Linked DNA regions of Homo sapiens. The protein of the gene in region 1 interacts with the protein of each later gene in a biochemical or structural test. Each region holds a gene or a part of one and is shown on either strand. Other genes may lie near its edges.

Region 1 (5,737 bases):
AGGTTAAGAATACTATCATGCAGAAATGCTGCCTTACTCTTCTTATAGGTAAATTATAGAGCTTTTAAGTCCACAAAATAGTTCTTAAAATGAAAAGTAAGCCAAACATGAAAACATCAAAAGCAGGAAAGGAAAAGTCCACATTCTAACAAATTCAAGTCTTAAACCTTGTTTAAATAATAGCAAAAATAACTGCATATACATATATACCTGGTATGTAAGTGTGTATGTGGTATGTTTGTGTGTGTGTGTGTGTGTATATGCACATACATACACCTGGTTTTGTTGTTTTTTTTTTTTCAGAATAAACAACTAAATAACTGTATTAGAAAAAAAAGAAACTTACTAAATATCATAATCTGATGATATGTGGTCCTGAATTGGCTACTAGTTTAAGCAAATAAACTGTAAGTCATTTATGGGTTAGTTGGGGAATAAATGGATATGGGCTGGATATTCGGTAATATCATTAATGAAAAGCAGATTGCAGAAATACAGTATGATCTCAGTATTTTGAAATTGTAAATACATGTACAGACAAATACTTAGACAGTATGCATACTGGTGTTAACAGTCACAATTTCTGGGTGATGAAAATGTAACTTGAAACCGCTCCATTTCTACAATGCACATTTACTGTTTCTGTTATAATAAAAGGGTATGTTAGAAAAACAAAAAGGAGGCTGGGCATGGTGGCTCATGCCTCTAATCTCAGCACTTTGGGAGGCCAAGGTGGGCGGATCACTTGAGGTCTGGAGTTTGAGACCAGCCTGAGCAACATGGTGAGACCCCATCTCTACAAAAAAAATATAAAAATTAGCCAGGTGTGGTGGTGCACACCTGTGGTCCCAGCTACTTGGGAGGCTGAGGTGGGAAAATCACTTGAACCTGGGAGGGTGAGGTTGCAGTGAGCTGAGATCATGCCACTGCACTCCAGCCTGGGTGACAGGAAAAGAAAAAGGAAGGAAGAGAAAAAAGAAGGAAAGAGCAAAAGAGACGAAAGAATGAAATGAACTTCAAACAATTGGACTCAATATTCACATTTGGTCCCCCAACTCTCCCCACACTTGCTAGCAAAAATATGAAGCCACATCTGTATTGTCAGAATTAGGCAATGCAGTGTCTTACCCAAATAACTAAAAAATATCAGGTTTGCCTTAAATTACCAAAATATGTACCCAAATCTCCTTTGGTCTATACAGATTTTCCTCCTTAGTCCACCTGCCTTTCTTTTACTGGTAAATGCAACTTTTATTGGTTGCATTTATTTGTAAATTCAGTTTTTCTGAGGGCTATGTAGGAGAAGCTGTAACCAATCTTCAACCCATTTCTCACAGAAATAAGTAAACAATAAATGATAAGGTATCAAAGGCTATCACACTGGTGCCATAAGAAATAATTTAAGTATTGAAAAGTATCTTGAAGAAAAATTGGTATGCATATATATATATAACTCCATATATATAATATATATAATAGAGTTAAAGAATTATACATTTTTAAAAGCATGAATTTAAAATTGAATAGGTACGTGCTGTAAGAGAAAACATTTTGAGGGTTTTTTTTTTCCAATCTTAATTGATGATATAACTTTTAAAATGAACATGAGGAAGGAGGAGGGGGGAAATGCCCTGCCTTTAACTTACTGTTTAAAGGCCCTTTCCCGGCCTTCTGTTCCTTTAAGGAAGAATAAACATTCCTCTTGCTTTCTTAGTTCTTCTGTCTGTCTTTCTTTCATCTGCTCTTCGTGCTTTTTTTTAAGCCATAATCGAAAAGCTTGTTGTGGATCTCTGTTTTCCTGCTGATTAGAAAAACAAGCTTTACTTAGTTTAGATAAACAAGAACTACATTTTGAAGCCCTGCTTATGGGATCCTACAAGAATATATTTCCTACTCTTCAATTTTTCATAATAATGCCAGCCTCATTACCTGCATTCCTAGTATCCAAACCAAATACATCACGCTTAAGTTTTAAGAATATCTTTCAGCAGTTACTTAAAATGGCTAAGCCCATTTTTCAAAACTGTAGTTCCTATTGTAAAGGGTGGCCATAAGGATTTTCAGTCATAAGAATTTTCTTATAAAGATAGCAGCCATGATAATTTTAACATAAGAAAAAGCTAGTAGGAGTGGCTTATTTCGTGGTCCCTCAAAGTTCATGATGGATAGTATCTTCAGGGAATTTTCAAAAGTTCAAAGAGCTCTTATTTGGAGGAATAAAGGAGAGAAAGAAGACAGATTTGGTACTCTTTACCCTTGGGAAAAGTGTCACCTCATGTGGATTCCTGGCTAGAATGCAAAAGGAAAAGATACATTCATTTAATACTTCCCCCAAATATAAGCTTTGTGATTGAGCTTATATCTTGCATTTCCCTCATCTGTTGCCTATATCTTGCATTTTTTCCCTTGTTTGTAACCCACATTGCCAAATATGCTCTAGTCTAATTTAGAAGATTATTCAGGATCTTTGATGCACAACTGAACTTTGTGGAGAAGACCCCTGGATCTAAAGAATCATTGCCAAACACCTGGAAGTCTGGGAATTGCTAGAGATGACATAAAAATGTTCAATCGGGAGTTATAGATCAAAAGAGTCCAGATACAAAGTAATAGATAGGAGGAATAAGTTCTGGTGTTCTATTACACAGTAGAGTGACTACAGTTAACAATACCGTATATTTCAAAATAATGAGGAGAGGATTTTTGAATGTTCTCATCATAAAGAAATGACAAGTGTTTGAGGTAATATGCTAATTACACAATGTGTACATGTATCAAAACATCACACTGTACTCCATAAATATGTGAAATTATGTGTCAATTAAATACAATTTTAAAGTTAAAATATTTTTAAAGATTCAAGGATTCAGGGAGCAACAGGATACATGGGTATCCCCATTCTTTTGTTCTTTCAACAGATATTCATAGTATTTACTACATAGCAGGCACTAAAGTACTGGGTTGCATTAATAAAATTAAGGTTCCCTCTCTCACACATTCTGTACTGTACAATACAGTAACCACAAGTCATAAGTGGCTATTTAAATAAAATTTAAACTTCAGTTTCTCAGTCATACTAGCTACATTTCAAGTGCTTAACAGACACACATGGCTAGCAGCTACTCTAATGGACAGTGCAAATACAGAAAATTTCCATCATCCCAGAAAGTTCTATTGGACAGTGTTCTGCACAGACAGGATAAAAATAAGTGACTGACTGATTGATTGACTGATCTGTCTGATTCAAAAGAAAATATGGGAAGGAGGGTAATAAACACAGCAGTGAGGAGAAAGGATGGTATTTAAATAGAAAGGGAGGAAGTTATGGGATATCTGGAGAAAAACAGTGGTAACAATAAGAGCAAAGGAGCTAAGAAGGGATTGTGTTTGGCATGATCAATAAATAGCAAAGAAGTCAAAGTGAAGCTGTAGCAAAGTAGCTGAAGAGTGGAAGATGAAGTCAGGGAAGTAGTAGGGATCAGGTAATGTATAACCTTGCTGGCCATGGTAGGAACTTTGGATTTCATTTTGAGATGAGAAGCCATTGGGGGTTTCTGAGCATAAGTGACACAGTTTATTCACCATTTTAGAAATATCATTCTGGCTGCTATGTGGAAAACTGAATGAGGGAGAGGCAAGGTAGAAGGGGGCTGGGTTATTAGGCTTTTGTAACAGCCCAGCCAACAGAAGAAAATAGTGGTTTAGATTAGGGTAGTGGGACTCTGTATATGCACTGAAGATAGAACCAACATAATTTGCTCAAAAATTGAATGGATAGTTTTATGTCATGCTTTAAATGATTATTTTTTAAATTATTCCAGGTTTATTAGTATAATAAAAATTCAAGAAAATATATTTTTAAAACAAGGTAAATTACAGCAGAACTATCATCAGAATGATAGACTGCATTGGTATGCAAATATGTCACTGCATAAGATCATAGCAAATAACTCTCAATAGTGGAGGGAACCAAAATAAAAAATTAGAGGAAAATAAAAAATTCTAAAGATAAAATATGAATTATACACATAATTAGTAATGGATTAAATTATCTGATTATAAAAAAGGATAAATGACTGAATTGGAGACTTTTGCATCCATCCATGATATCATAATTGGTATCAGATTTACCCTTCTGCCCTAATTAGCTATAAAGCTAGATAAAATGTATGCAGCAGCTTGATAACTGAGAGTAAGAAAAAACATGATATAACCCCCATATTCACCCTGGCTCTGTACTTGGTGACACTTTCCAGACAACGGTATAGGAAGGAGGAGTCATAGCATCAAGCAGTCACTAGTCTCACTGGGCTCATGAAACAGATAGGAGTCTGGGGCTGCTGAGACAGCTGAATTTCCAGGGCAGGGTACTAGAAATGAAGCAGTCATGTGGAGGGATGCTCCAAGAGTCTGTGTGGGGGTTTCCCTTGGGTCTTGGCAAGGCCTGGGCTGCACATGTGTAGAGTGAGGCTCTGTAAGGTCTAACAGAGAGTAGCTGCTGTTAATGAAGAAGATAATAAAGGTTGCATAGTTTTGGAGACATTGGAGTTCCAATCCAACTATAGTGGGAATACTTCATTGCTTACCTTGGTCAACCACTTACAACCCTAAAAAGGCCATGCTTTGGAAATAAGGGTCATGTCCTAGAGTAAGGACCATGCTCTAGGACTAAGGACAAAAGCAAAATAAACCCATCCTAACAAAGCATAAAACAAAGTCTGACAGGATCAAGAGTATTCCTTACTAATCTAACTGCCTACAAGAAAAAAATTCAATACCCTTTAAAGGAAAACAGTGTATTCTATATTTCCTTACAACTTTTATATTGAAAAGATCCACAGTCTATTAACCAATTTAAAAAAAATCACTGGATATCTAAAGAAACAAGAAAATGTGACCCATAATCCAGAGAAAGAGGCCTTCAACAGATCGATCCTAAGATGACATAGATATTGGCATTTAGATACAAACAGGTCTAATATTTAAGAAATGAAAAGATGAATATAAAAAAGGTCTAATATGTAAGAAATGAACAGGTGAATATAATGAATAAAAAGAGAATCTCAGTAAAGAAATGGAAATTTAAAAAAATAAACTGATAGGAGGATCCAAGATGGCCAAATAGGAACAGCTCCAGTCTATAGCTCCCAGCGTGAGTGATGCAGAAGACGGGTGATTTCTGCATTTCCAACTGAGGTACCGGGTTCATCTCACTGGGGCTTGTCAGACAGTGGGTGCAGCCCACAGAGCACAGTGGGGCATCGCCTCACCCAGGAAGCACAAGGGGTCGGGGAATTCCCTTTCCTAGCCAAGGGAAGCTATGACAGATGGTACCTGGAAAACTGGGACACTCCCACCCCAATACTACACTTTTCCAACGGTCTTAGCAAACGGCACATCAGAAGATTATATCCCGCACCTGGCTCAGAGGGTCCCACTCCCACAGAGCCTCACTCACTGCTAACACAGCAGTCTGAGATCAAACTGCAATGCCACAGCAAGGCTAGGGGAGAGATGTCTGCCATTGCTGAGGCTTAAGTAGGTAAACAAAGCAGCTGGGAAGCTCCAACTGGGTGGAGCTGACCACAGCTCAAGGAGGCCTGCCTGCCTCTGTAGACTCTACCTCTGGGGGCAAGACACAGCTGAACAAAAGGCAGCAGAAACTTCTGCAGACTTAAACGTCCCAGTCTGACAGCTTTGAAGAGAGTAGTGCTTTTCCCAGCACGGAGTTTGAGAT
Region 2 (3,741 bases), on another chromosome or scaffold:
CACGTAGTTGGGATTACGGGCTCCTGCCACCACGCCCCACTATTTTTTAATTTTTTTTTTTTTGTATTTTTAGTAGAGATGGGGTTTCACCATGTTGGCCATGCTGGTCTTGAACTCCTGACCTCAGGTGATCCACCCTCCTTGGCCTCCCAAAATGGTGGGATTACAGGTGTGAGCCAACGCGCCTGGCCACTGAGTTCTTATTTGTGTGCCAGGCACCAGACTAAGTACGTTTCCATCCTTGCCTCCCAACAAGCCTGTAAGCTAAGTGCCTTTATTATCCCCTATTATAGAAAAGGAAACTGAGGCTTAGGAGGGTTAAATAACTAGCACAAGTTCAAAAGCCAGTGAATGGTGGCCGGGCGCAGTGGCTCACATCTGTAATCCCAGCACTTCAGGAGGCTGAGGCGGGTAGATCACTTGAGGTCAGGAGTTTGAGACCAGCCTGGCCAACATGGCAAAACCCCGTCTCTACCAAAAAATACAAAAATTAGACAGGCATGGTGGCGCGCAACTATAGACCCAGCTACTCGGGAGGCTGAGGCACAAGAATCGCTTGAACCCAGGGGGTGGAGGTTGCAGTAAGCCAAGATGGCACCACTGCACTCCAGCCTGGGCAACACAGCGAGACTCTGTCTCAAAAAAAAAAAAAAAAAAAAAGCTGGTGAATGGCAAAACTGGAGTATTAGCTATTGCTACAAAGGAAGCCACCTAAAGTGGGGCTTAAAATAGCACCCACTTATTATTATTATTTTTTTTGTGGCAAGGTCTCACTCTGTCACCAAGGCTGGAGGGCAGTGGTGCTCTTGGCTCACTGCAATCTCTGCCTCCTGGGTTCAAGCGATTCTCTTGCCTCAGCCTCTCGAATAGCTGGGATTACAGGCGTGTGCCACCACGCATGGCTAAGTTTTATATTTTTGGTAGAGATGGGGTTTCACTATGTTGGCCAGGCTGGTCTCGAACTCCTGACCCCAAGTGATCCACCCACCTTGGCCTCCCAAAGTGCTGGGATTACAGGCGTGAGCCACTGTACCAGGCCAACTTACTATTGCTTATGAGTCAATGGGTCAGCTGGGTGGCTGTGCTGCCCTGGGCCAGGTTTGGCTGATCCCTACAGGCTCTTGTGCCTGTGGTCAGCTGGCAGGCTGGCTGCTGGCTGACTGGTCTAGCTAGTATGGACTTGGTTAGAGGGGGTTTGCTATCTATCTTCCACATGGTCACTCATTTCTGGACAGCTAGCTTGGGCTTGTCCACATGGTGGCCTTAGGGTTCCAAGAACATGAGCAGAAGTGTTCAAGGACACCTCCTGGCATGGCATCACTGCTGCCTTACTCTGTTGGCCAAAGCAAGTCACAAGGCCAGCCTCGATTCAAGGGATGGGGAAATAGACGCCACTTCTTTTTTTCCATTTTTTTTTTTTGGTGGAGGCAGGGTCTTGCTATGTTGCCCAGGCTGGTCTTGAACTCCTGGGCTCAAGCAGTCCTCCTGCCTCAGCCTCCCAAAGTGCAGGATTATAGGCGCGAGCCACTGCACCTGGCCTAGACTCCACTTCTTAGTGGGAGAAGCTGTAAAGCCACATTGAAGGAGGATGGATACATGGAAGGATAAAATTTAATAATTAAACTAGCAGCCCAGGTATTTTCTTAAAGCCCAACATCAGCTCCCTTGATATACCTTCTTCGTGATGTCATGATGCCACTAAGAAGCATTCTGGGACCTCAGTGGCATGGGTCATGGGAGAAGGACCAGGGACCAGGGCTGGAGAAACTGACCAAGTCCTTGGGCTGATCCCCGAGGTGTGGGTAATCTGACATCAATGCCCAGCATCCAAAGGGGAATGGCCAACTCAGGTTAGACCTGGACACATACACATCTGAGCAGGTTCATCTGGGGACGAGCCTGGCACAGGAATCTGACAAGGGTGATATTTTAACCCACGATAGTGGCCAAGTCTCTAGGTAGATTATTGGTGGGAAGTGGAATTGTAGTTTTCACTGGGGAGATAGGGACAGGGTACAGCTTTCCCTTCCCAGGGATCACACTGGACAAACTAGACAGTGTCAAGGGTTCAACAACAGTTTGGGATTCAGGTCAGGGATCTAGCCCTACTGCAGTCCTAGTTATTGAAACTAAGGAGAAACAAGGGTTAGAGTAGCAGCTTAGCAGTCAGCTTGGTTGCAGGTCTTCTCCTTATAGGATGCACTAGATCTCAATTCTGAGGCTGACATGACATAAACAGGACACACATGCTTCTGTTCCCACACTTTGGTGTCCATAGCAGACATCACTAATGGATCACAGAACAGTTTTTCCGGTGAGTCCAGACAAGGTCTCAGAATCCTTCTCAACACAGTGTTTCACCAGGTACTATACAACTGAAGAACATTAGCATATGAGTTGAAATCTGCATACTCTAATCCCTGGTTGCAGGCAGTATGACATTCTGTGCCCCACTGACTGATGGGACTGAGTCTTCTTCATGCTCCCCTCCCTGGCTGGTTTAGGGACAGGTTGTTGCTGCCAAACTGTGTTGAGAAGGAATCTGAAGCTCCACCTGGGCTTAGTAGGAAAGGAGAACCATGATGAGTTTGAGATGTCTAGAGCAGGAGAGGCCCCTTAGAGAACACGGCTTTGGGGACAGTCAGGACTGATGCCTGGTTTCAGCCCCCACTTTTCCTCTCTGGGTTGGGGTGGAGTGGGAAACTGTCAGAGAGAGAGTCTACCCCTGCGAATAGGGGCATTCCAGAGCCCCCAAGACCTCTAAGAATGGTAGGCCGCATTAGGATTTCCCAACACTATTGACATTTGAGACCAGATCATTCTTCGTGGCGGGGACCATCCTGTGCATTGTAGGGTGTCAGGCAGCACCCCTGGCCTCCACCCACCTGATGCCAGTAGCACCCCCACCCCCAGTTGTAACAACCAAATATGTCTCTAGACATTGTCAAATGTCCCCTGGTGGGAAAAACTGAGACCCTCCCTGGACTAGATCCTGAAAACCTTTTCCCTCCCGGTAGCAGGGAACCACCAGGTTGTGTAAGGAGGGGTGAACTGTCCCAGGTTGGAAACAGAGCAGGTCAAAACTCCTACGCTTATCAGTAGTGGGATTGAGCCTGTGAGTAGCCACTGCACTCCAGCCTGGGCAACATAGCAAGACCCCATCTCAGAAAGAAAGAGAGAGAGAGAGAGATAACCTCTTCCTTATCAGCAAGAGTTTATGGAAAGGCTTCAAAGGTTTTGGGATCAGGAGGACCTGGGTCTGGTGTGGCTTGGCTGATGTGTAGGGTGACATGGGTCAGCGTGTGGGCCAGCGTGCTCCGCTCACTAGGCCTCAGCTTTCTCCTCCAGCAAATGAGAATGACACCCTCCACCTCTCTGTGGGTGTGCTCACACTCAGTGAGTGCCACCCCTATCCTCCCACAGCCCTGGTCTCCCTCCTGAACCCGTGTGCCAACATGAAGGTGTGCAATGAGGACCAGACCAACTGCACAGTGCCCACTTACCCCTCGTGCCGTGACAGCGAGACCTTCAGCACCTTCCTCCTGGACCTGTTTAAGCTGACCATCGGCATGGGCGACCTGGAGATGCTGAGCAGCACCAAGTACCCCGTGGTCTTCATCATCCTGCTGGTGACCTACATCATCCTCACCTTTGTGCTGCTCCTCAACATGCTCATTGCCCTCATGGGCGAGACAGTGGGCCAGGTCTCCAAGGAGAGCAAGCACATCTGGAAGCTGCAGG

Evidence for each region. The genes of interacting proteins can lie anywhere in the genome.
Region 2: the proteins of CCDC181 (region 1) and TRPV4 interact in a test that uses a peptide from one of them, tested with the Homo sapiens proteins (one large-scale study listed by BioGRID).

The regions. Positions count from the first base shown.
Region 1 is NC_000001.11:169,395,591-169,401,327, forward strand, and holds part of CCDC181 (coiled-coil domain-containing protein 181), read right to left. Parts: intron 1,802-5,737; coding exon 1,647-1,801; intron 986-1,646; exon of another isoform or gene 304-985; intron 1-303. UniProt on the Homo sapiens protein: Microtubule-binding protein that localizes to the microtubular manchette of elongating spermatids.
Region 2 is NC_000012.12:109,788,399-109,792,139, reverse strand, and holds part of TRPV4 (transient receptor potential cation channel subfamily V member 4), read left to right. Parts: intron 1-3,397; coding exon of another isoform or gene 3,398-3,423; coding exon 3,424-3,740; intron 3,741-3,741. UniProt on the Homo sapiens protein: Non-selective calcium permeant cation channel involved in osmotic sensitivity and mechanosensitivity. Activation by exposure to hypotonicity within the physiological range exhibits an outward rectification.